2 separate regions of the Homo sapiens genome follow, and region 2 is linked to region 1. The links come from fine-mapping of genetic effects on gene expression. A gene starts in region 1. The other region holds a variant in brackets. All regions are shown on one strand. Distances are between the middles of the regions.

Region 1 (2,914 bases):
TTTTTTTTGAGATGGAGTCTCACTCTGTCACCCAGGCTAGAGTGCAGTGGCATGATCTCGGCTCACTGCAACCTCCGCCTCCTGGGTTCAAGTGATTCTCCTGCCTCAGTCTCCCGAGTAGCTGGGATCACAGGTGCGCACTGTGCACAGCTAATTTTTTGTATTTTTAGTAGAGATGGGTGTGCCGAGCTAATTTTTTGTATTTTTAGTGAGATGGGGTTTCACTATGATGGCCAAGCTGGTTTCAAACTCCTGACCTCAAGCGATCCGTCTGCCTCGGCCTCTCAACGTGCTAGGATTACAGGTGTGAGCCACCACTCCCAGCCATATGATTTAAAATTTTTTTATTTGTATAAATTTATGATGTACACATGCAATTTTGTTATAGCATAGATTGTGTAGTGGTCAAGTTGGGGCTTTAAGGTATCCATCACCCAAGTAACACACATTGTACCCATTAAGTAATTTCTAATCATCCACCCCCCTCGCCCTTCCAAATCTCCATGGTCAGTCATTCCACTCTCTATGTGCATGGGTGATTTGAAAGAACTCCTTCCTCTCATGTTCATCAGTCACACCTATGGTGGTGGCCAAGTCTAAGTTCTGGACACTGCCCACCAGTACCAGTCCTCAGCCCAGGGAGCAAGTGATTAGGGCAGAGAAGCCTGGTGGTTCTAGCCCATGGGCCCTTTCCCCTATTTGAGGCAACAGAAGGCATTTGCTTCCCCAGTGACTTGAGCTCCCCGAATAATGAAAAACTCTCCCTTCTACTTGATTAATACTTCTCACAGTCAGTAAACAAACCCAGAGCCATGGTTTTATCTTTCTTGGATCTTTTATTACAGGTAGGGCTTGTGTTGAGGAAAAACATAAATAAACCTGAACAATGGATCTACTCCACTGTTAATGCCCCTGAAACTCTGACTACATCCTCATGAGACTCTGGAAGTTAGAAAAGAGGAGAAACAAAAGTAAAAGAAAAAATATGAGCAGAAAAGAAAGGAGGCCATGCTCAGAGGGAAAGTGAGGAAGTTCCAGAGTCTTTCTAGAACGGCTCCCCCTCCCTCAGAAGGTGGTGACATCAAAATCCTACAAATATGAACTGGGAAACTGTTCAGGCAATCCATTGCTCCTGGAGTCTGAGTGTAATACATACACGTTTCTGCCCCTGGCTTCTATATTTTTCACCACAAGTTTTAGGAAGAAAAGCTGTGCCTTCTAGGCTGCCTCGACTTTGGAGTTAGGAGAGAAGAGGACGTGGGATACTCACGGGAATCGCTGTGCTTCACCATTAACACAATGATGAGAGGTAACAGGAACGCCATCAGTTCCCCCATAGTCCTTCTCTTTCCGGGTTCTTTTAACCAAAAACTGACAGGTCCCTTCTGAGAACCTCTTGGTGACACACAAGGCCTTCTCCCAATAAGAACAGGGGAAGATATGCAGTGTCATCAGTTGCTAGGTTAAAAAAAAAAGATAAAATGAAAGCATGAACACCTTCTTCGGTAACTTTTAAGTCTTTGCTGGTTTCAGACACTGCTTGCTCCTTTTGGTGTATCTATCTTCACCCTATTCCCAATTTTTAAATATTTATGGAGCATAGTCATGTTCAAAGCACAGAGAAACAAAGATTAATCATATCTGGTCAATCAGGGAGCTCAAGCTGCTGCCTCTGCTTCCCTGGAGCTTAGAATTTTGCTTAAGGGTCAGTAAGAAAGAGTCACAGTTCCCACGGCTTGGAACTCCCTGCTCTGGCTCCCTATGATGCTGAAGTCTCTGTCTGAGATAGCAGGTGTCACTTAGATTGTCCCGTAATCTTCAACTTAGGTCTGTCCTCCCTGCTACTCTAGCACCCAGCACAATAAGCTCAAAACACTTACTGAATAAAAGAAGGCAAGAGAAAGGCCTACAGAAGATTCTGAGGGGCAGCCACTCAGCTTGCTCAATCAGCAATCCCCAAGATCAAGCTGTGGCTACACTGTCATAAGGAGCACATGACAAGCTGGAAAACAGCAGCTTAAGCTTGTCCAGGGAGCTAGGGAACAGGCCCAGACAGGAAAGAGGAAGTAGACATGAAGGGGAGAGGTGAATGGAGGCATGGCCATGAGGCAGGCAGGCTTGAGCTGGGTTCAGGGACCTGGGTTTGCCTCCCCACTATTTGACCATGGGCAGAATCCCAAATTGCACCAAGGCCTGATTTCTTCAACTTTAAAAGCAAATCCTGTCATATATTTCACAGAGTTGTTGAAGGATCAGAAGTTCTGTTTATGATGCATTTAGTAGGTAGTAGAACCTTATGTACCGGTTGTATGGTAGGTTGAGAATTGTCGCCCCAAAGATGTCCACAACCTAATTGCCAGAACCTGTGGATATATTACCTTAAATGGCAAAAACAAAATAAAACAAAACAAAACCCTTGGCAGATATGATTAAATTAAGGATCTTGAGACAGAGAGCTATCCTGGATTATCTGGTGGACCCAGTGTAATCAGAGGGGCCTTATTAGAGGGAGGCAAAAGGGTCAGAGTCAAGGAGATGTGACAATGGAAGCAAAGGTCAGAGTGATGATGCCATTGCTGAAAGAAGGACATGAGCCAAGGAACGCAGATGGCCTCTAGAACTAGAAAAGAGAAGGAACAGATTCTCCTTAGAGCCTCCAGAAGGAACACAACACTTTGATTTCAGCTGATAGGACACATTTTTGGACTTCTGTCCTCCAGAACTTTGAAAGAATAAATTTGCATTGTTCGAGGCCACTAAGTTGGTGGTAATTTGTTATAGCAGCAACAGGAAACTAATAGGTCTACCTTTACCCAGAATAAAATAAGAAGCCAAATAATGAAATTAACATTTGGCAATCTCTCAGCGGCCCCTGGCACCTTCTCTTCTCAGATCTTTGTATTTCTCTCTTCCT
Region 2 (2,914 bases), 22 kb before region 1:
TGTACAGTGGTAGCTTCATATATGGAATTACATGGGACAGTGGAGCAAGGAGGAAGCCTGGCAGGTGAGCTCTTAGAGGCCTGGCACACTGAGGGTATCTTTCTTTTTTTTTTTGGAGACAGAGTCTTGCTCCGTTGCCCAGGCTGGAGTGCAGTGGTGTGATCTCGGCTCACTGCCACCTCTGCCTTATAGATTCAAGTGATTCTCCTGCCTTAGCCTCCCAAGTAGCTGGGACTATAGGCACATGCCACCATGCCCAGCTAATTATTTGTATTTTAGTAGAGACAGGGTTTCACCGTGTTGCCCAGGCTGGTCTTGAACTCCTGAGCTCAGGGAATCCGCCTGCCTCAGCCTCCCAAAGTGCTAGGATTACAGGCGTGAGCCACTGTGCCCGGGCTGAAGGTACCTTTATCTGAGGCTGTAATGATTAAAGCCAAAGGTCAAATGTCACAGTCAAGGTCAAGGGAGAGCAGAGGTCAAACCTGAGGTGCAGGACAAAAGCCACTTGTCAAAGTTCAGGTCACTGAAGTAAGCATTAGGGCTCAGGTGCAGAGTCAAACGGGGTCAGAGAAGTAGGACCGAGGAATGTGTGACTGGCAGCCCCAGGGCAAGTAGCTCCACATGGCAGGGCAGTAGGTGAGGCCTCAGGGGTTGGGGATAGTAAGGAACATTAAGGGGATGTTCATTCTCACCATGGGCTTTTATTGATTCCCAGTGCATATGTATGAAGACAACCTATGTAGGAAGGCAAGTCATGCCCAGCTACCATGAGCCAGCACAGGAAAGGCAGAAATGAGAATTGAGCCCTCTCCTGACACCAAATATACTGTTATTATTATTATTATTATTATTATTATTATTATTATTATTTTGAGATAGAGTCTCACTCTGTCGCCAGGCTGGAGTGCAGTGGCGTGATCTCGGCTCACTGCAATCTCTGCCTCCCGGGTTCAAGCAATTCCCCTGTCTCAGCCTCCCAAGTAGCTGGGACTACAGGCACGCAACACCATGCCCAGCTAATTTTTTGTATTTTAGTAGAGACAGGGTTTCACCATATTGGCCAGGATGGTCTTAATCTCCTGACCTCGTGATCCGCCCGCCTTGGCTGCTCAAAGTGATGGGATTACAGGCGTGAGCCACTGCACCTGGCCATACTGTTATTTTTACATTAAAATAGTGCAGCTGGGTCCAGGTCTCTGTAGTTCCACTGGAGGTGATGATATGTCTGATAATTATTTCTCTTAATTTCCCACAAAAGAC[A/G]AAAAGGGTGAGACTACCTCCATAGATCCAACCGGGCAGATTACCAAGATTCCAAGCTCCCAGGCAGGGTTGCTGTGAACAGCAGGGGACTTTGGCTTTCTCTCAGGCCAGAAAATGTATAAAAATAATCAGTCCATTCCCAGGCCATTGTAGAAACCTGCCGGCTACTCTCATGGAGTGATCCAATCCTACCTGTAGGGTCACAGTCATGGTGCCCATGATATTCAAAGCGCTTGTACAATAAATGTTCCCATGAAAGATGAATGAGAAAGGCCATTTTATGAAGTACTGAGGTTCCCTTCACATGGTGTTCAAGTGGAGGCTGGAGGCTCAAGTCCAAGGCATTGCAGAAGACAGTTCCTGCTCTGGTTGAAAAGATTCCTTCCTGCTCTGAGAATCTCCAACTAGTTGCAAATCATCATTGACAAATAGAATGTAGGGAAGCGTTGTGTCATGAGACAAGCTGTATTTAAAGTCAACTCTGATAAAACAGTCCATCAAAAGAGACTGAAAGCTGACAGTCTTTTTGGAGCCAAAGAACAAAGAACATTTTGTGGCTCCTCTGTTGCTGCCATAAATGCTCAATCCCATTACTCTCATGTATGTTGTGGGTGTCGTCAGGACCTTCAAGCACTAGGCTTGACTCTATGGGGGACAGAGGATAACATGGCTCCTAGAGGAAGGAGAACTGGAAAAGAGGGATCTGCAATCATCGATCTGGTGTTGGAAGGTAGATGGCTCCATTTTGCTCTGAAAGGAAAGGGGTTTTTAGTCAGATTACAAGAATGTTTCCTCACAGCTCAAAAATAAAGTATGCAGTGTTCAGCAAAATCTGAGAAACAGGCATCGACAGTTTTAGCTTGCTTTGTCAAGATTCTCTTAGTACTTGACAAACTTTAGCTCAAATTTGTAAACTCTATAAGATAAAAAGCAGGAACTCACAGTCTGTATAATTATTGAGAGAGGGATGTCATTGTAAAAAAATTTTTTGTTTGTTTCACTATCATTTATTGGATTAGGATTAGTGCTGTACTTTATCTATAAAGAAAACATTAACAACCCATTAACTCTCTGAGCTGATTTTCTTTTCTTTTCTTTTCTTTTTTCTTTTTTGAGACAGAGTCTCGCTCTTGCTGCCCAGGCTGGAGTGCAATGGAGCGATCTTTGCTCACGGCAACCTCCGCCTCCCAGGTTCAAGCGATTCTCCTGTCTCAGCCTCCTGAGTAGCTGAGATTACAGGCATGTGCCACCACGCCCAGCTAATTTTTTTTTTTTTAATATTTTCAGTAGAGGCAGGGTTTCACCATGTTGGCCAGGCTGATCTCGAACTCCTGACCTCAAGTGATCCGCCTGCCTCGGCCTCTCAAAGTGCTGGGATTACAAGTTGTAAGCCACCACGCCCGGCCTCTGAGCTGATTTTCTAGTAAAAGGGTTGGTTTTACTTTGATCTAACAACATGCTTTTGTACAGTTATCACCTGAATTGGAGTTGAGGTCTATGTCTATGAAGGAAAACCAAACTTCTGGTCCACTTTGGGTTCAAAGCATGGTCTCATCGGTACTATCCTGTGATCAATTTGAGCAATTAGTGAAGCCAGAGCCAGGAGATAACCTTACCAGGCTCTATTGTAAGCTCTATGAAAACAGGGATCGTA

Direction of the effects. Positions count from the first base shown, and alleles are read on the strand shown. Sizes are in standard deviations (SD) of each study's normalised expression.
For the expression in monocytes of the gene that starts at base 1,362 in region 1, allele G in region 2 goes with a lower level than allele A (large effect, 0.93 SD a copy in Kim-Hellmuth 2017).

What was found. PIP is the estimated chance that this variant, and not a neighbour inherited with it, causes the effect.
Region 2: its variant is fine-mapped to the expression of MR1 in monocytes (Kim-Hellmuth 2017, PIP 0.95).

Annotation. Positions count from the first base shown.
Region 1 is chr1:181,032,431-181,035,344 of GRCh38, reverse strand. It overlaps MR1 (major histocompatibility complex, class I-related), which reads right to left and starts at 1,362. Exons shown (of 6, transcript NM_001385161.1): 1 at 1,271-1,362. The coding sequence starts at 1,337. RefSeq lists enhancers at 1,453-1,562, 1,693-1,792, 1,993-2,182.
Region 2 is chr1:181,054,321-181,057,234 of GRCh38, reverse strand. MR1 (major histocompatibility complex, class I-related) reads right to left here. Exons shown (of 6, transcript NM_001385161.1): 6 at 1-2,010. The coding sequence ends at 1,970. Among named protein-coding and RNA genes, the nearest start is that of MR1, 22 kb to the right of the region's middle. The variant A/G (reference allele first, on the strand shown) is at 1,261.